Linked DNA regions of Homo sapiens. The protein of the gene in region 3 interacts with the protein of the main gene of each other region in a biochemical or structural test. Each region holds a gene or a part of one and is shown on either strand. Other genes may lie near its edges.

Evidence for each region.
Region 1: the proteins of HCLS1 (region 3) and FGR form a complex in vitro, tested with the Homo sapiens proteins (one study listed by BioGRID).
Region 2: the proteins of HCLS1 (region 3) and ACTR3 form a complex in vitro, tested with the Homo sapiens proteins (one study listed by BioGRID).

Annotation. Positions count from the first base shown.
Region 1 is NC_000001.11:27,611,494-27,618,228, reverse strand, and holds the end of FGR (tyrosine-protein kinase Fgr), read left to right. Parts: intron 1-932; coding exon 933-1,036; intron 1,037-1,222; coding exon 1,223-1,372; intron 1,373-2,384; coding exon 2,385-2,540; intron 2,541-2,615; coding exon 2,616-2,795; intron 2,796-3,302; coding exon 3,303-3,379; intron 3,380-3,645; coding exon 3,646-3,799; intron 3,800-4,878; coding exon 4,879-5,010; intron 5,011-5,106; coding exon 5,107-5,315; 3' UTR 5,316-6,165; downstream 6,166-6,735. UniProt on the Homo sapiens protein: Non-receptor tyrosine-protein kinase that transmits signals from cell surface receptors devoid of kinase activity and contributes to the regulation of immune responses, including neutrophil, monocyte, macrophage and mast cell functions, cytoskeleton remodeling in response to extracellular stimuli, phagocytosis, cell adhesion and migration.
Region 2 is NC_000002.12:113,949,034-113,956,146, reverse strand, and holds part of ACTR3 (actin-related protein 3), read right to left. Parts: intron 4,669-7,113; coding exon 4,576-4,668; intron 4,428-4,575; coding exon 4,302-4,427; intron 525-4,301; coding exon 441-524; intron 1-440. UniProt on the Homo sapiens protein: ATP-binding component of the Arp2/3 complex, a multiprotein complex that mediates actin polymerization upon stimulation by nucleation-promoting factor (NPF).
Region 3 is NC_000003.12:121,630,817-121,636,934, reverse strand, and holds the end of HCLS1 (hematopoietic lineage cell-specific protein), read left to right. Parts: intron 1-445; coding exon 446-501; intron 502-1,130; coding exon 1,131-1,200; intron 1,201-2,516; coding exon 2,517-2,728; intron 2,729-3,763; coding exon 3,764-3,868; intron 3,869-4,371; coding exon 4,372-4,603; intron 4,604-4,750; coding exon 4,751-4,834; intron 4,835-4,952; coding exon 4,953-5,089; 3' UTR 5,090-5,536; downstream 5,537-6,118. UniProt on the Homo sapiens protein: Substrate of the antigen receptor-coupled tyrosine kinase. Plays a role in antigen receptor signaling for both clonal expansion and deletion in lymphoid cells. May also be involved in the regulation of gene expression.

The DNA.
Region 1 (6,735 bases), on a different chromosome or scaffold from region 3:
TATACAGTCCCTCAACACTTCCTCCGTCCCCCTCCTGCCTGCCCTCCTGGACACACCACTTGCCAATGCCTTCCCCTGTTTCCTGAACTGTGCCTAGTACCCAGGGGCGGACTGACCTTCCCAGGGTCCACTGAGACTTCCACCACCCTTGGTTTGAAAACACGAGGCTCCTTTAATTCAACCCAAGATGGCCACAGGCCAGTTTCATGATCATCTGAGTCTTCTATGGCACCTGTGGTCACTTCAGCTCCCCCATTGTACCTGCACAGTTGGTTTAGGGCTACGGTTCAATCCCAGAAAGAATCCCCAAGGGAGAGGAGTGATTGAGGCCTGAGGTTGAAGTTTAGACTTAGGACAACATCCAAGTCTAAGAGAGTGCAGGAAGAGCAGTAGCCGGGGCGGGAGCAGCCAGAGAGAAGAGAAGCAGGAGACTGTGCTGCTCTGGAGGCCAAAGGAGGAAAGAGTTTGGAGGTGGAGGTGGGAGAAGGATCTGAGTGATCTGATTACTGGAGTGGTGAAAAAAGAACTAGGGAGAGCGGCAGAGGATTTTAGGTGGAGCTCATTAGCCAGCCTGTGGACAGGTCACTTTCCCTCTCTGAGCCTCAACTTCCTCATCTGTAAAATGAGTGCACAGAAGGGCTACAGTGAGATGAACTGAGGCTCCATGGCACCCTGATGACTGTGATTGTAGCAATTTTAATTCAAGAGAAACCTAACGAGAAGAGATGCTAACCTTTGCAGGGCACCTACTGTGTGCCAGGCATTTTACACTCCCCTTCTCTGTAACCCTCCCAGCCAGGATGTGAAGCAGGTGTACCAGCCCCATTTTACACATGGGGAAAATGGAGTCTTGGCTTGTGAGGTGACTGTGCAGGAGGCTGAGGTGAGGTTTGAGCAGAGCGTACCTGACTCTTGCCTGCCTTTCCCAACAGGTGGTACTTTGGAAAGATTGGGAGAAAGGATGCAGAGAGGCAGCTGCTTTCACCAGGCAACCCCCAGGGGGCCTTTCTCATTCGGGAAAGCGAGACCACCAAAGGTAGGGGTGGTGCCACGCCCCAAGGCGACTGGGAGGCCCAGCCATTGGGGTAGGGCTAGGAGCGGTAGGCTGCTTGGGTTAAGGCCAAGACTGGGACCAGGTCCTAGGGATGCTGCTGTCGGGCCTCTCCCAGCTCCCAGACTAGGGCAGAGGAGAACAGCAGATCAAAAGTGATCCTCTCCACAGGTGCCTACTCCCTGTCCATCCGGGACTGGGATCAGACCAGAGGCGATCATGTGAAGCATTACAAGATCCGCAAACTGGACATGGGCGGCTACTACATCACCACACGGGTTCAGTTCAACTCGGTGCAGGAGCTGGTGCAGCACTACATGGGTGAGGGCAGGGGCCTCAGATCCCTGAACCAACCAACTGAAGCATTGTCCAGATGGGGGAACTGAGGCCCAGAGAAGGGAAGGGACTACCAAGCAGTATTGGCCAGACGGAAACCAGAACCCAAGGATGGGGTCTGCCAGCCCAGGATCCAGCTCTGTGAGCTTCTGGAGGAAAGCAGTCCTTCACCAAGCAGCACCCCCTAATGACTGAGCAAGGCATTGGCCAGTTTCTTGCCTCAAGGCCTCAATTTGTGGAAACTTGATGGAGTGTTTGTGCCGCCTGAATGCCCCACCAAGGCACCAGGACTGCCCTGTGGGCAGACAGGGAGCCATCATCACAGGGCCCTGAGCAGGGGGTGACAGAGGCTGGTCTCACTTTTGTGAGAAACTCTGGCTGCTGGTGGAGCTTGGATGCCAGGGGCCAAGGCAGAGTGAGGGGTCCATTAGAAGGCAGTGGCTGTTGTCCAGGTGAGAGGTGGTGGAGGCCAGACTAAATCGGTGGCAGTGGAGTAAAGATGAAGCAGACGATTCTGAAGCTGGGTAGGAGGCAGAATAGGCCTGACTTGGTGGAGAATTGGCTGTGGGGGTGAAGGGAAGGCAGGAGTCAATGCCCACGTTTCTGCCTTGATTGGTTATGCCAAGGATGAGGTCCACGGAAGACCGTGGGCCTCATGTCCACACCTTTGCCTGGAATCCCAACCCCATTTCCACCTGTGAGAATCCCACCTTATCCTTCAAGGCCCAGCTGGAGGCTACCTCCTATGGGAGGCCCCCAGTCCTTACAGAAGGCTTACAGGGATCATCTCTCCCTCTGGGTGCCACCCCCTTCCTTGGGCACCAACATGTTCCCCTATTTAGTGGATCGGGTTGCCTTTCTTCCTGGCCTGTGACCTCACTTGGGGCCTAGTTCCTTATAACTGATCTTAGGGTCTGGCACCAGGCTGGGATAGGATAAGGAGTGGAGGGGGGTGTCCTGGCCCACCTGTGACTCTACTTCATGACCCCTCCCCTAGAGGTGAATGACGGGCTGTGCAACCTGCTCATCGCGCCCTGCACCATCATGAAGCCGCAGACGCTGGGCCTGGCCAAGGACGCCTGGGAGATCAGCCGCAGCTCCATCACGCTGGAGCGCCGGCTGGGCACCGGCTGCTTCGGGGATGTGTGGCTGGGTACGGAGCTCCCGGGGGCCGGGACGAGGGCCTGGGCTCGGGGGAGAGGGTCCTGACAAGACAGCCTCCGAGCAGGCACGTGGAACGGCAGCACTAAGGTGGCGGTGAAGACGCTGAAGCCGGGCACCATGTCCCCGAAGGCCTTCCTGGAGGAGGCGCAGGTCATGAAGCTGCTGCGGCACGACAAGCTGGTGCAGCTGTACGCCGTGGTGTCGGAGGAGCCCATCTACATCGTGACCGAGTTCATGTGTCACGGTCAGGAGGCGGAGCCTGGTCGGGCGGGATTCGGGGTGAAGTTAAGAGGGGAGTTTTCAGGCGTGGGACCTGGGACGCGATCTGTGAGGGACAAGGGACAATGGGCAGAGTCCCACTAAGGGACCAGGTGTGTAAAACGACTGGAGGGCTGAGGTGGGAGCCGGGCCGAGTGAGACCACTAGGGAGCTGGGGAGGGGGGCGGTGCCTCCGGTGTTAGGCGGGTAGGGCTTGGGCTAACGAAGGCAGAATCGGGAATGAGGGAGGGTCTGGGGCGGAGTCTGGGTGGGTCGTGTCCGGAACACCAAGGAACAGAAGAAACGAGATGTGGGCAGAGTCCGTGTCTGGCAGCAGGGCCAGGACGAGACAAGTGAGGGGTTGAGGCACCCGCGGGGTCCTAAGTGAGGGGCGGGTCCAGGTGGGAGGGGCTGAGGGGCGGGGTCAAGCGAGAGGAGGAGGGGCTGGGGCCCGGGGTAGGGCTTTGCCGCTGACTTTCTGGCTTCTTCCCAGGCAGCTTGCTGGATTTTCTCAAGAACCCAGAGGGCCAGGATTTGAGGCTGCCCCAATTGGTGGACATGGCAGCCCAGGTAACTGGGCCAGCAGCCTTTACCTCCCGGACCTCCCACCTATTAACTGTTCACAAATTCTCTGTCCCTTCAAACGCCTGGGAGGGCGGCCCCGCCCCCTGCATCAGCTGTGCCTCCAGCTGTGCCTGAGAGGTACTGCCTCTCTTTCTGGGCCTCAGTCTCCCCCTCTGGAAAGTGGGTTTTTCAAATGGTCCCTCACCCCTCAAACAGGCCACGGTGTTGTGAGTCCACATGAGCTCCCATCTCTCCACACTATGGTCCCCCAGGTAGCTGAGGGCATGGCCTACATGGAACGCATGAACTACATTCACCGCGACCTGAGGGCAGCCAACATCCTGGTTGGGGAGCGGCTGGCGTGCAAGATCGCAGACTTTGGCTTGGCGCGTCTCATCAAGGACGATGAGTACAACCCCTGCCAAGGTGCCCTGCTTCACCCCACCTTCCAAGAGCTCCCCATGCAACAAGGGACTTCCATGGGGCCCCACGCACTCAGGAACCCTTCCTCACTCCAGGTCGCCCGAGTCGCCCCATCCTGATGTAGTATGAGAGGCAATTCTGGGCTCAAATCCCAGGTCGGCCACTTACCAGCCATGTGGCCTTGGGCAAGTCACCTAACCTCTGGGAGCTGCCGTTTCTCTTCTGTAAAGTGACAATATTCAGATAACAGGAAGTCAGCAGATGTTTACCAGGCACCTGCTATGTGACAGGCACAGCTATAATTCTTGAATGAAAGACAATGGCGTGTAACAGTGGGAATTCTGTAGCCAGAATGCCTGAGTATGAATCCCAGCCAGGTATTAACTCTGTGATCTGGGCAAGTTACCTAACTACTCAGTGTCTCCGTTTCCTCGTCTGTAAAATGAGTCTCTATCTCATGGGGGTTTTGGGAGGGTTAAATGAGTTAATGCATGCATATCACTTAAAACAGTGTCTGGCACACAGGAAAGGCTAGCCAAGTATTGGCCGTTATTAGGATAAGAATTATTGCGATTTTTGGAAAGTGCCCATCACTATACTAGACACATAGTAGGTGTTGACTAGATACCATGTCCTTTCTACTATGCCCAGAGACCCTTGTGCTCAGGATCCCCGAAATCCTCATCCCTAGAGTCCCCATTCTCTCTCTGTCTCTTTTTTTTTTTTTTTTTTTTTTTTGAGATGGAGTCTCACTGTCACCCAGGCTGAAGTGCAGTGGTGCGATCTCAGGTTATTGAAGCCTCCCAGGTTCAAGCAATTCTCCTGCCGCAGCCTCCCTAGTAGCTGGGATTACAGGCACCCGCCACCATGCCCGGCTAATTTTTGTATTTTTAGTAGAGACAGGGTTTCGCCATGTTGGCCAGGCTGGTCTCAAACTCCTGACCTCAAGTGATCCGCCTGCCTTGGCCTCCCAAAGTGCTGGGATTACAGACGTGAGCCACTGCGCCCAGACCCCATTCTCTTAATCCAGCTGTTTCCAGGGACCCCCTCACTAACTTTCCCTGCTCCCCCATCTTCTCCAGGTTCCAAGTTCCCCATCAAGTGGACAGCCCCAGAAGCTGCCCTCTTTGGCAGATTCACCATCAAGTCAGACGTGTGGTCCTTTGGGATCCTGCTCACTGAGCTCATCACCAAGGGCCGAATCCCCTACCCAGGTTTGCCTCGCCAGGGGTAGGGCTGGGGTGGGGGATGGTCACGGGGAAGGGCTTCCACCTGGCTGTCCCTTTGACTGACAGAGACCCATCCTTCAGGCATGAATAAACGGGAAGTGTTGGAACAGGTGGAGCAGGGCTACCACATGCCGTGCCCTCCAGGCTGCCCAGCATCCCTGTACGAGGCCATGGAACAGACCTGGCGTCTGGACCCGGAGGAGAGGCCTACCTTCGAGTACCTGCAGTCCTTCCTGGAGGACTACTTCACCTCCGCTGAACCACAGTACCAGCCCGGGGATCAGACATAGCCTGTCCGGGCATCAACCCTCTCTGGCGGTGGCCACCAGTCCTTGCCAATCCCCAGAGCTGTTCTTCCAAAGCCCCCAGGCTGGCTTAGAACCCCATAGAGTCCTAGCATCACCGAGGACGTGGCTGCTCTGACACCACCTAGGGCAACCTACTTGTTTTACAGATGGGGCAAAAGGAGGCCCAGAGCTGATCTCTCATCCGCTCTGGCCCCAAGCACTATTTCTTCCTTTTCCACTTAGGCCCCTACATGCCTGTAGCCTTTCTCACTCCATCCCCACCCAAAGTGCTCAGACCTTGTCTAGTTATTTATAAAACTGTATGTACCTCCCTCACTTCTCTCCTATCACTGCTTTCCTACTCTCCTTTTATCTCACTCTAGTCCAGGTGCCAAGAATTTCCCTTCTACCCTCTATTCTCTTGTGTCTGTAAGTTACAAAGTCAGGAAAAGTCTTGGCTGGACCCCTTTCCTGCTGGGTGGATGCAGTGGTCCAGGACTGGGGTCTGGGCCCAGGTTTGAGGGAGAAGGTTGCAGAGCACTTCCCACCTCTCTGAATAGTGTGTATGTGTTGGTTTATTGATTCTGTAAATAAGTAAAATGACAATATGAATCCTCAAACCATGAAATACCCTTGAACCTTCCTTTGGGAGCGGGGGTGGTCAATAGGGGGTGAACGGACAGATATGGCTACAGGCAGCAGCAGGGGAAGCTGGAGAGGGCCCTAATGCCTACCAAGCACGGGGCATCCAAGGTGTGGAGTTTTAGAACACCCAGAGTCCCACTGCTCATCTGCACGTGAGTTTAGAAGACAAGCAGCTGAAGATACATTAAAATGTCCCCTTCGTTGCTGATATGGCCTTCAATCTGTGTATAATAGGTTTGCTAATTCTTTATCTGAGTTCATCAGATTTGCCATTCATCACAGGCGCAATGGGACAACCTTAGGCCTCCTTTGCCAGGGCAGGGAGGAAGACCACAGTGGACCCTCTGGAGCTGTCAGACTCTCCAAAAGAGGACAGAAGAGAGGGGAGGAGAGAGAAGAGGCCTGAGGGTTAGTCTAACTCACTGGATCTCATTAGGGGAGTTTTGCCCCCAGGGGAGCTTTTGGAGAGGTTTGAAGGCAGTTTGATTTGTTTGGATCCTACAGGTAGGGTTCAGGGATGCTGAACAATCTGCAGTGCACCTGCGCGATGATGAATCTTCCCACTCCCTCGTTCCCCTGAGAGAAACTCTGGAAGCTGACATGCCTCCGTGTGGAAACAAGGGGAGCAGGGAATAAAGATTCCCACCTCTCCCATCAGAAAATGTTTGTTGACCATCTGACTTACTAAGGGAATGGACAGAGAAGGAATCTGGGAGCTGGGAATCACTGCAGCAATTGGCAAATCATTACTGAGCATTGACTCTGCAAAGCATTGACT
Region 2 (7,113 bases), on a different chromosome or scaffold from region 3:
GCTGAGGTGGAAGGATCACTTGAGCCCAAGAGTTTGAGACCAGCCTGGCCCAACATAGTAAGACCTCATCTCAATAAAAAATAATAATAATAATAAAGGCCAGGAGCAGTGGCTCACACCTGTAAACCCAACACTTTGCTTTGGGAGGCCAAGGTGGGCAGATCCCAAGGTCAGGAGTTCAAGAGTAACCTAGCCAACATGATGAAACCCAGTCTCTGCTAAAAATGCAAAATTAGCCAGGTGTGGTGACGCATGCCTGTAGTCCCAGCTACTTGGGAGGCTGAGGCAGGAGAATCACTTTAACCCAGGAGGTGGAGGTTGCAGTGAGCCAAGATCATGCCATTGCACTCCAGCCTGGGTGACAAGAGCGAAAGTCCACCTCAAAAATAAATAAAATAATAATGATAAAATAAAATAAAAGTAAGCTTCATCACACTCACCGTGGAAGCCAGCATTGATCCTCCAAACCAAACTGCATATCGCTGCATGTGGTGTGTAATGACTTGTACATCAATAGGTTTTGGCTAAAGAAAGACATAGTATGATCATCTTCATAGTAAATTCAAATAACAACTTCTGTGTCATTTAACCTTAAATGTACATATACAAAAATAATATCTGTACTAAATTCAGGTGGTATCTTACAAACCAGAAACAATTGAGATTGGCTGTCTCAGAGGAAAGGGGTTGGGAACACTGTGGAAGAGACAGGGAGGGAACAGAGCAGAATAAATGGAAGGGAAATAACAATGAGCACATGTTTTATACAGTTCTGACTTTAAGAATCTAAATGTTAGTGTTTTACATACTAAAAAATAACACCTTAAAAGAAGGGGAGGTTGGGGCAAAACAAAGTACAACAAAAACAAATTAAACTAATTGTACTTTTTTCAAACATAAGCACACTAAGGTGAGGAAAGGGACTAACACAAGCAACTTGTGAGCATAGTATTTTGAATCTTATAAGCCTTCAGGCTGAAGATAAAATATAAGCAAATATTGAATTCTAGTTTTGGGTCTATTTTTCACAGTGGTGTGGATTAACAATTCTGAAACTATCATATACATATTCCAGGATTAAGCAAAAACATAAACATATTATAGATAATAGGAGCCAGGTTTCTCACTGTCAGAGAAGGGCATTACAATATGGAAGGGCAGAAAACTAGAGTGAACCTTCTATAACTGGAGACGTCTGTAAAAATTCATGGTTTTAATTTATGTAGAGAATTAGATATAGATGTATAAACACACACACACCCCTAGCTCTAATCACTGAGAAGGCCTAGACTCAGTGATACCCCAACAGCAATGAGCACAAAGCTTGGTTTCTTAGTAACGTTCTCCACTAACAGGAATAAGACAAGGGTGTCTTGAAGAAAGAAAAGGAGAAAAAAAGGGCTGATTCCAGGGCCAGAAAAGAGAAAGTACAAGATCAGCCTGAAACACCTTGCTGTGCCGGGAAGTACAGAAGTAGGCAAAAAAAAAGATGTGGCTGCATCAAAAAAAAAAACCTAAGAGCCATTTGAATAACTCCCACTGGTCAAATCTGAAAAAAAAAAAAATGTGGGATTAAAATTAATGATGAGTGGTATTACTGATATTATGATATTACAGTGATATTAAAGATATAGACCACAAAATGAGAAATCAGGAGTTCATATAGATATTACTAAAAGAATAAATGAATGTGGGAGAAGGGAAAACTCTTGCTTATAGTAAAACAAGTCTTAAAAACATAGAAGGAATGACAGAAATTGCAAAACTCCATTTAGCAACTACCACAGTAATAACTGTTTTAGGGAAGAATCACAATGGATGCTAAAAACTAGTGACTGAAACTTAAAAGAGAAACAGGATAGTCTGAAAGTGTCTCCTCATTAGATTCTTATTAAATATAAAGGAAAACATAATAACTTTATAGTGAAAAAACCTGGCAGACACAACTTCAACCAAAAGCTCAAAATTCACACACAGGACAAATTCTATCATGTGTCTACTGATACAATGCACTAAAAATGATACAATATCAATTCTGTGGCATCACTGCCAAAAGTACATAATCTGAACCTACTCAAGCAGAAATATTAAACAAACCCAAGCTGAAGGATATGCTACAAAATAAATGGCTGTACTCTTCAAAAATGTCACATTCATTCATGAAAGACAAAAAACATTGAGTATGTAACAGACTGAAGCAACACAATAAGTAAATGAAACATGCAATCCTTGATTGGATCCTGGATAAGGGGGAAGAAGGTATTTTGTTTTCCTTTTGTTATAAGGGACATTAGTGAAACAACCGGTAAAATTAGAATCAGTTCTATAACTAGATAACACTGGATCAAGGTTAATTTCATGATTTTGATAATTGTAATATGTTCTTGATTTTAGAAATATACTAAAATGTTTGGGGATAATGAACCATCATATCTACAATTTAGTGTGTGTGTGTGTGTACACACACCTATTTATAGAAACAGAATGATATGGCTTTTTTCAAAACTGTTTGGTTGCCATTAAAAATTACAGACTGAAGGAAAATAAAGCCAGAGATAGATAGATAAAGGCATGCTATTAAGATCTATAAAAGTTACTAGCAAGTAAAACTAAGGTGAAGAAGGCAGAGTCCTCCAAAACACAAGGTTTTTCCTATACATGATGAGCATCCCAAGTCTGAAAATCCAAAATGCTCCAAGATCCAAAAACTTTTTGAGCACCAACATGATGTTCAAAGGAAATGCTCAGAATTTCAGATTTTTGGATTAAGGATGTTGAACCAGTATATAATGCAAATACTCCAAAATCCAGAAAAACTCAAAACCTGCAACACTTCTGGTATGAAGCAATTCAAAAAAGGGACACCCAATCTGTTTCTTTCAATATGTCGATACGGTACTGATCACTGGGTAAATTTATTTCTTATTTACAAGTGTAAAAAGAGCTTAAAAATGTTAAACAATCTCACTTTTTTAAAATACTATACTCAGAAACATACAGCATTGTTTTGTACTTATATATCTGTAATGAGTTATTAAAAACTAAACAGCTACTTTAATACATCCATAACCATACCATTAGGACAATCAACTTCAATCTTTTAAGTATTCTAACAAAAAAACCAGAACATGCACTATGTTCATTCACATAATCAATGTGGTTAGTAGGATTCTCAGTACAGAGAATTTATACTTGCAAAACCCAATGACTTCTTTTTTAGGTAGGAGGTAGGGTAGATAGATATGTGGGTAAGGGGAGTAGACGGATGGGCAAATGAATGGATGAATGGGGGTGGGCTGGTGGTTTGGTTGGTTGGGAAGGGGATGCAAAAGCAAACACAACATTTTAAAAGTCTATTGAGTAGACTTCCTGAAGTGTGAAGTCATGACATTATAGGGACAGAGTTCAATATTTTGCCTTCCACCCAAAACATATACTTTTTACTGCATTCCTAGGGATAGGTTTACTCAAGATAATCAAAATATAGGCACTGACAACAGTCAGCCATCATGCAATTTCTCAACAATCAGCAAACCCTAGAGTGCTGTGCTTTACTTTTAAGTAATTCTGAATGATTATGGAAGTCTCAGATAAAGTCCTCATTCTTGGTAATCTTCCAAGCAGAAGGTATTTTATTCACATGAAATACCTTTTTTCAAACAGCTTTGAAAAAAGCCATATCATTCCTCTAAATCAACGTTCTGCTTCAATATTTAACAAGGATGAAAAAAATGAAGAATCTATCTCTAAATATAGAAAGTAGACATCTAAGAATTTTAAATTAATTTTGATTTTTTTTAACCTCAAGCCTAAAGGTCCAGGACATGTAATACAAAGGTTACTTTATTAAACCACCGATTTGACTGCACACTTTGAGGTTGCTATGTGGGAGCTAAAGTCAGTTTTTGAGAGCAGGCTTGACTACTCAACAATGGCATCAATCTCAACTCAGCTTTGCTGTCCTTCTATAGTATAAAACATTTTGTGGATCCATAATTAATTTGATTGTTGGTGTATGCAAAGAAATCTACTATATTAATTATCTATGAGAGAGGTATTTAAAAAAAAAGTCTTTCCACAGGTATTACTAAGAATTATTTTCCAGAAATACAGACAATATCCTAGAAGAATCAAATGATCCAGAATATCACAGACATAAATCTATAACATTAACCATTTCCATTAGAATACCTGACAGGTTCCTCTTATTTTTCTAAATCAGAGTGAATGCTGGCAAATATTTCTCATCCTAATCAAGGAAGGCACCCTCAACCTTCTCACCAATAATTGGGAAAACCAACCTTCAATCTACCACCACTCAATTCCTCACTTAATTTCAGCCGGGCATCTACAGTTCTTTTCAAATCTCTTTGCAAGCGACGTCCAAAGTCCCTGAACATGGTTGAACCTCCAGAGAGGACAATATTCTAGTGGAGAGAAAATAAATATAATATTTAAAAAGAGAAAAGTTTAAAGATATAATATATAGTACTGAAATGCTATTATATCCTTTTTATGAGAGGTGTTTAAGTTTTTTTAAAGTAAGACCTTGAATAACAATTTTGCTATAAATACCTTGTAGAGAGGACGTCTGACATCAATAGGACAATTCTGAATTACTTCATCTACAACTTCTGAGATAGGTTGTGTAAAGTCTGGATTAGCAAACTGAAAAATAAGTTGGATATATAATAGAGATCATATCACTACTGACAAATATCACAATAAAAGGTTAAACAAAGTTTTCAGTTCAAAAACAAAAGGCCTTTTAGAAACCACTAATACTGGTCTCTAACAGATTCAGATTGAAGACACTGAAATCAGAGAAAACTCAAAATTATGATGATATATACCATTTTATAACTATCAGAATAGCAAACATGTAAAGTCATACATATACTATGAGCTGGCAAAAATCTGGGTAAATGGAAACTTTCATATAACGCTGTGAGAGTATACACTGATGTAACCACTATGGAGAATAATTTGGCAATAGTAACATAGTGACATGGTCTGGCTCTGTGTCCCCACCCAAATCTCATCTTGAATTGTACTCCCATAATTTCCACGTGTTGTGGGAGGGACCTGGTGAGAGAGAATTGAATCATGAGGGTGGTTTCCCCCATACTGTTCTCATGGAGTGAATAAGTTGCACAAGGTCTGATGGTTTTATCAGGGATTTCTGCTTTTGCGTCTTCCTCATTCTCTCTTTGCCTGCTGCCATCATGTAAGACAGGACTTGCTCCTCCTTGCCTTCTGCCATGATTGTGAGGCTTCCCCAGCCACGTGGAACCATAAGTCCAATTAAACCTCTTTCTTTTATAAATTGCCCAGTCTCAGGTATGTCTTTATTAGCAGTATGAAAACGGACTAATACAAATAGCTAATAAAATTTTAAATGCACATACCAGTAACTCCACTTCTTACAACAAACTCTGAAGAAACTCCCCAAACATGTATGCTATTACATATGCATATTTACTATAGCCTTGTTTCTAAGAGGAAAAACCCGTTAAGTCCATCAATAGGGGATGAAATAAATAAATGTAGTCTAATCTCATTATTCATGATTCCATATTTGTGAATTTACCTAATCGCTAAAACATATTTGTTACTCCCCAAATCAAAATATGGTTATTCATGGACATGCACGTGTAGAGCAACAAAAATTTGAGTCCACTGATGTGCACATTCCCCATTGAGGTTGAACAAGATGATACTCTGCTATCTAGTTTCAGCTCTCATACTATAAACAAGTGTCCTTTTCACAGTTCTATTTAGTGGCACGGTTTTCATATTTTTGTTAGTGATTTCATTATTTAAAATGGCCCCCAAGCATACTGCTCAAGTGCTGGCTAGTAAACACAAGGAGGCTGTGATGTGTCTTACAGAGAAAAAGCAAGTTAGATAGCTTTGTTCAGACATGTGTTCTAGTGCTATTGAATATAAATGAATATACTAAAATGATATACTAAATGCAGTGCCTTTAAAAAGAAACACACATGAAACAAGGGTATATGTTAATGGGATAACAAAAATGTTACCAGAGGCTCAAAGAAACCTAATACTGTATTTCCCCTAGGAGCAATAGCTAGCTCAGTGTTCACTAATTCAGCGCTCTCAAGAACTTTTTGGCACATCTACTTTGAATAACAAACATCAGCTATATATTCAAACGATGATATACCATAGTCAAAATAAACTTACTATTTCCAAACAGCTGGCACTCAAGAAAAACATACTTTTTAAAAAACTAACTTAAACAAAAACAAAAAACAACTTGAAGCTGGGCATGGTGACTCACACCTATAATCCCAGTGCTTTGGGAGGCCAAGGCAGGACCATTGCTTGAGACCCAGAGTTTGACACCAGCCTGGGCAACATAGCGAGACCCTGTCTCTACAAAAAATTTAAAAACTAGCTAGGCATGGTGGCACACACCTGTAGTTCCAGCTACTTGAGAGGGCTGAGGAAAAAGGATTGCTTGACCCTAGGAATTCGAGGTTACACTGAGTTATGATCACACCACTGCACTCCAGCCTGGGTGACAGAGAGAGACTCTGTCTCTAAATAAATAATCAAAATCTAGCTCTAATTAGTGAAAAACAAACAAGTATTGTATATCTCCTCAGCCATTCATTTTTATCATTAGGTTGTCCTAGTTGAGAGACATTATTCCTTTATTTATTAAACTGAGTCTATAACTGTATTGATAATTATTAGGCATGTGTCAATTTTTTCTTTTTTTTTTTCTTTTTTTTTTTTTTTTGAGACCGAGTCTCGATCTGACACCCAGGCTGGAGTGCAGTGGCGCAATCTTGGCTCACTGCAACCTCTGCCTCCTGGGTTCAAGCAATTCTCCTACCTCAGCCTCCCGAGTAGCTGGGATTACAAGCGTCCGCCACCACGCCCGGCTAATTTTTGTGTTTTTAGTAGAGACGGGGTTTCACCATGTTGGCCAGGCTGATCTCGAACTCCTGACCTCAGGTGATCCGCCTGCCTCAGCCTCCCAAAGTGCTGGGATTATAGGTGTGAGCCACCACGCCCTGCCTTTTTCCAGTTTTTAAGATTAGTTCTAAATTATTTACAGGCTGCGCATACAATGAAAAGAGA
Region 3 (6,118 bases):
CTAGGAGGGAGGTGAGAGAGAAGGGGGCGTTGAGGAAGGAATGAGGACAGACAAGCTGAGTGATGGTCAGAAGATGGTTTGCCATGAGTCTTAGAGGGATCTCTGCTGTCCTCACAGAGGATAAAGAGGTTTACTGCTTCCCTGGAACCCATACGGATGGCTGAAGTGCTCTCTGTATTTTTTCCTATTTCTTTTACATTTTTCCTTATCTGTTGCTTTCTGCTTTCCATGTTTCCCTACTTCCATCTTTGTCTTCTCCATTCGCTCCCAGATTTTTTCCCCATCTGTTTCCCTCTCTTCCCATCCATGCCTCCCTCTATCCTCTGATTCTCACATTTCCTCCTACATTTGTTTTCCACATTCCTGTTTTTCTTCCCACTGATTCTTCTCACCACCCATTCCCAGCATTTTGATCTCCTATAACTCAGAACTTTCTGTCCTGCAGATTATGCCAAGGGCTTTGGTGGCCAGTATGGAATCCAGAAGGACCGAGTGGATAAGGTAAAGCACCGGAACACCAATGTCTTAAGAAGAGTTCCCTAAGTTTAGGAAAGTGTGCAGAGAAGAGCGTGAAGAAGGCTGGGAGAGGGAGGGGACGGTGGTGCTGGGCACACAGAGCCTGTCCTGCTGGCGTCCTGCAGTCCCCACTGACTGCCCTCAGCATCTAAGGGGCATGTCTGCCAAAGCCTGAGCTTTGAGGACAGTGGGAGAGGCATACAGAGAGACAGGTAAACCGCCGGGAAAGGTCGTATTGGACTGGAAATTGTATTGATTTCTTGGCATTGCTTAACCCAATCTTAAGTCTCTTCCCACCCCATGCCACTGTCCTCCCTACACTAGTTCCTCCTCATGCATGAGCCAGGGGGCCCTGCTACATTCTAGGCAACTGGGCTTGGAGATGTGAGATTCTAAGGTCACTGAGCTGCTGAAAGGGGGAGCTGAACTCAGCACTTAAGAACTTCTTTACCCCCTCTCTACCACAAAACAACATTGGAACATGCTGTCCAGCTGTTGAGCATCCAATGGTTAGGGATACCTCTTATAGTGGCCCCCAACCCCCAATACTACCTCCAGGTCACCACTACCCTTGCCCCTCTCCCGCAACACACATGCTGTTCTCCTGCCTGCAGAGCGCTGTCGGCTTCAATGAAATGGAGGCCCCGACCACAGCTTATAAGAAGACGACGCCCATAGAAGCCGGTGAGGCTTAGTGATTCACTCTCCATGCACCTCACTTCCTTCTCCCTCATTCTTTTTCTTCCCCAGACTATATCCTCCATGCCTTTAACTACCTAGATTAGCTGAGTTAGACCTGATCCCTATCCTCATATTCCCAGATTCTGTCTTTCCTAGAAAAACCAGGTAAGGCGGAGCTCACATCTGTAATCCCAGCACTTTGGTGGCTAAAGTGGGAGGACTGCTTGAGCTCAGGAATTTAAGAACAGCTTGGACAACATGGGGAAACCTCATCTCTATAAAAAATACAAAAATTAGCCAGGCATGGAGGTGCACACCTATAATCCCAGCTACTTGGGAGGCTGAGGCAGGAGAATCACTTGAACCCAGGAGGCGGAAGTCGGAGTGAGCTGAGATCATGCCACTCAACTCCAGCCTGGGTGACAGAGTGAGACGAAAGAAAGAGAGAGAGAGGAGAGAGAGGAGAGAGAGAGAGAGAGAGAGAGAGAGAGAGAGAGAGAAAAGGGAGAGAAGAGAGAGAGAGAGAGAAAGAAAGAAAAGAAAGAAAGAGAGAAAGTCAAGTGGATAGACAGAGTGACGTCGGGGAAGGAATCGGAGGCAGAGAACACAGTGTGGCTTGGGACAGGGGTGGGGTGGCATGGGAACATTGGTGAGGAACCACTTGGGAAGAACACACAGGGACAGGAGTTTCGGATGAGGTTGAGGATGAGTGGTGGCTTGAAGAAGGCATACAGATTTATGGAATATGGACAGGGGAGGATGCTTTTTGGAAGCCCAAAGTTTACAATTTAGAAAGGACACAAGTCAGCTGGGCATGGTGGCTCACACCTGTAATCCCAGCACTTTGGGATGCTGAAGTAGGATAATCACTTGAACCCAGGAGTTCAAGATGAGGCTGGGCAACACAGCAAGATCCCCTCTCTACAAAAAATACAAAAATTAGCTGGGTGTGGTGGTGCACATCTGTGGTCCCAACTACTCCAGAGGCTGAGGTAGGAGGATTGCTTGAGCCTGGGAGGTTGAGGCTGCAGTGTCCCATGACTGCACCACTGCACTCTAGCCTGGGCTGAGACCCTGTCTCAAGAAAAAAAAAAGACACGAGTCTTAGGTCGTATAGCCTGGCTTTATAAAAATCCAGGCTTCAGGGCTATGCCATCCTCCTATTATCCCTTGTTCCTCTATCGATACCTCTTTACCATCCTGTCCCACAAATCCCTCCTCCCGGATATTTAACTGATTCCCCTTCTTCCTTCAAGTGCCATGCCCTTCCCCACTCTCCAATCCAAGACAACCCTAATTTTTCTTGCCTGTGTCTGCAGCTTCTAGTGGTACCCGTGGGCTGAAGGCGAAATTTGAGTCCATGGCTGAGGAGAAGAGGAAGCGAGAGGAAGAGGAGAAGGCACAGCAGGTGGCCAGGAGGCAACAGGAGCGAAAGGCTGTGACAAAGAGGAGCCCTGAGGCTCCACAGCCAGTGATAGCTATGGAAGAGCCAGCAGTACCGGCCCCACTGCCCAAGAAAATCTCCTCAGAGGTGAGCGCCTGGCCCTCTGGGATCCACATCCAGGATCTCTTGCCCAGACAGGAGCCTAAGGGGTCCAAACCATTGGCAGAAAATAAGGCAAAGTCCTCCCCTGGGTTAGGCAAGGTCTGTTGTCTCTGTCTTTAGAAGACTTCAGTCTGACTGTAATTGGACCTCCTATCAGAATGTTAGAAAAAACCCTCAAGATTTACATAGTACAACAGAAAGCAAGTCACCAGCCAGCACAGCCAATTATTGCTGTAGGAACTATGAGGAAGGGGCCGTCACTTCAGGCTGGAGCCCATCTTGAGGGATGAGTTCCATTTGAATTGGCAGAGAGTGGGAGAGGGTGTTCCTGGTAAATGTAACAGTGAAGACATGCATGGTGTGGTGGCTCATGCCTGTAATCCTAGCACTTGAGGTGGCCAAGGTGAGAGGATCACTTGAAGCCAGGAGTTCTAGACCAACCTGGGCAACATAGTAAGAACCTATCGCTATAAAAACAATTAAAAAATTAGCTGGGCATGGTGGTGTGTGCCTATAGTCCCAGCTACTTGGGAGGCTTAGAGAGGAGGATTGTTTGAGCCCAAGAGTTTGAGGCTACAGTGAGCTATGATCTCACTGTGCTCCAGCCAGGGCAGCAGAGTGAGACCCTGTCTCAAAAAATGCATAAAATAAAATAAAAAGAATGAAGATGGGCCGAGCGTGGTGGCTCATGCCTGTAATCCCAGCACTTTGGGAGGTCAAGGCAGACAGATCACGAGGTCAGGAAGTCAGGAGTTCAAGACCAGCCTGACCAACATAGTGAAACCCTGTCTCTATTAAAAATACAAAAATTAGCCAGGCATAGTGGCGTGTGCCTGTAATCCCAGCTACTCAGGGGGCTGAGGCAGGAGAATCGCTTGAACCTGGGAGGCGGAGGTTGCAATGAGCTGAGATCGCACCACTGCACTCCAGCCTGGGCTACAGAGCGAGAGTCTATCTCAAAAAAAAAAAAGGAGTGAAGATGGAGGCTTGCTTACTTGAGAGATGCTTCATTTTCCACAGGCCTGGCCTCCAGTTGGGACTCCTCCATCATCAGAGTCTGAGCCTGTGAGAACCAGCAGGGAACACCCAGTGCCCTTGCTGCCCATTAGGCAGACTCTCCCGGAGGTAAGCAAACCCCCAAAGATTCTCTGCCCCCACCCCATCTTCTCGAGTCTTAGGAATGTGGGCTGTGCAGGGTGGCCAACCATCCTGGTTTGCCTTGCACTGTTCTGGTGTTAGCACTGAAGACCTTGCCTTCTGGGAAACTCCTCTGTCCTGGGCAAACTAGTATAGATGATTATCCTAGCTGTGGTAGCTCAACAATGTGCTCTTGCTTCAATGTTTTCTTGGTCTCCCAAAGAATCTGACTTGTTTTCTACTTCCCTCCCCTCACACCTTTTACATTCTCTTCCCATTGTCTCTGGAATGTGTTTTGGGTGGGTGGGTGTGGGAGGAGATTGAAGAATGAAGATGGATGAAAGGCTGTGTTCCCCAGGAGAGGCTGTTAGATGGAGGCAAGGGTAGAGGGGAGAAGAGGCAGGGTGGTGAAGGGCGGGGGATCTTATCAGTCCTCCATTGATTCCTCCTGGAAAGTGGAAGTCACAGTGCTCCACACTGTCTCTTCTCAGGACAATGAGGAGCCCCCAGCTCTGCCCCCTAGGACTCTGGAAGGCCTCCAGGTGGAGGAAGAGCCAGTGTACGAAGCAGAGCCTGAGCCTGAGCCCGAGCCTGAGCCCGAGCCTGAGAATGACTATGAGGACGTTGAGGAGATGGACAGGCATGAGCAGGAGGATGAACCAGAGGGGGACTATGAGGAGGTGCTCGAGCCTGAAGATTCTTCTTTTTCTTCTGCTCTGGCTGGTGAGTGATGGGAGGAGAAGCAGGAGAATTTGCTCATGTCCAGGGGAGGGTAAGAGGAAGAAGAATTTCTCTATTGCCCCAGTAGGATCTTTCTCTGTTTGCCTTCTTCATGTTGATGATCCCATGTTTGTGTTTCTCATTATGCAGGATCATCAGGCTGCCCGGCTGGGGCTGGGGCTGGGGCTGTGGCTCTGGGGATCTCAGCTGTGGCTGTATATGATTACCAAGGAGGTAGGTTGGGAGTGGCCCGAGGAGCCTGGTACATGGAGGCCCCTGATATAAGACAGGGGGACATGTGAAAAGAGATTCATGTCTGACCATTCTAATATCCCCTCAACTTTCTCCCCAGAGGGAAGTGATGAGCTTTCCTTTGATCCGGACGACGTAATCACTGACATTGAGATGGTGGACGAGGGCTGGTGGCGGGGACGTTGCCATGGCCACTTTGGACTCTTCCCTGCAAATTATGTCAAGCTTCTGGAGTGACTAGAGCTCACTGTCTACTGCAACTGTGATTTCCCATGTCCAAAGTGGCTCTGCCTCCACCCCCTCCCTATTCCTGCTGCAAATGTCTAACCAGATGAGGTTCTGGACAGACTTCCCTCTCCTGCTTCATTAAGGGCTTGGGGCAGAGACAGCATGGGGAAGGAGGTCCCCTTCCCCAAGAGTCCTCTCTATCCTGGATGAGCTCATGAACATTTCTCTTGTGTTCCTGACTCCTTCCCAATGAACACCTCTCTGCCACCCCAAGCTCTGCTCTCCTCCTCTGTGAGCTCTGGGCTTCCCAGTTTGTTTACCCGGGAAAGTACGTCTAGATTGTGTGGTTTGCCTCATTGTGCTATTTGCCCACTTTCCTTCCCTGAAGAAATATCTGAACCTTCTTTCTGTTCAGTCCTAAAATTCGAAATAAAGTGAGACTATGGTTCACCTGTATGCTGAGGTAAATAGTACTTTTTGTGTGGCCCTCATGGCCTCAAATCTTAAGGCTCCAACCTTTCCTCTTCCAGGCATATCCAGGAAACTTTCTCTTACCACTGCCAATTCCCCTGTACCCTAGATGTCAAAGACTAGGCCTTTTCCTTAGGCTGAACTTTTTTTTTTTTTGAGAAGGAGTTTTGCTCTGTCACCCAGGCTGGGGTGCCGCAGTGTGATCTCAGCTCACTGCAGCCTCCACTTCCTGGGTTCAAGAGATTCTCCTGCCTCAGCCTCCCGAGTACCTGCAACTACAGGCGTGCACCACCATGCCCGGCTAATTTTTGTATTTTTAGTAGAGATGGGGTTTCCCCATGTTGGCCAGGCTGATCTTGAACTCCTGACCTCAGATGATCGCCCCCCGCTTAGCCTCCCAAAGTGCTGGGATGACAGGCATAAGCCACTGCACCTGGCCTCCTTAGGCTGCATTTTAAACCCAGTCCAAAACAGATCAGCCTGAGCAATGGCTGGGCATGGTATTGTGGGCCTATAGCACCAGCTACTCAGTAGTCTGAGGTGAGAGAATCACCTGAGCCTGGGAAG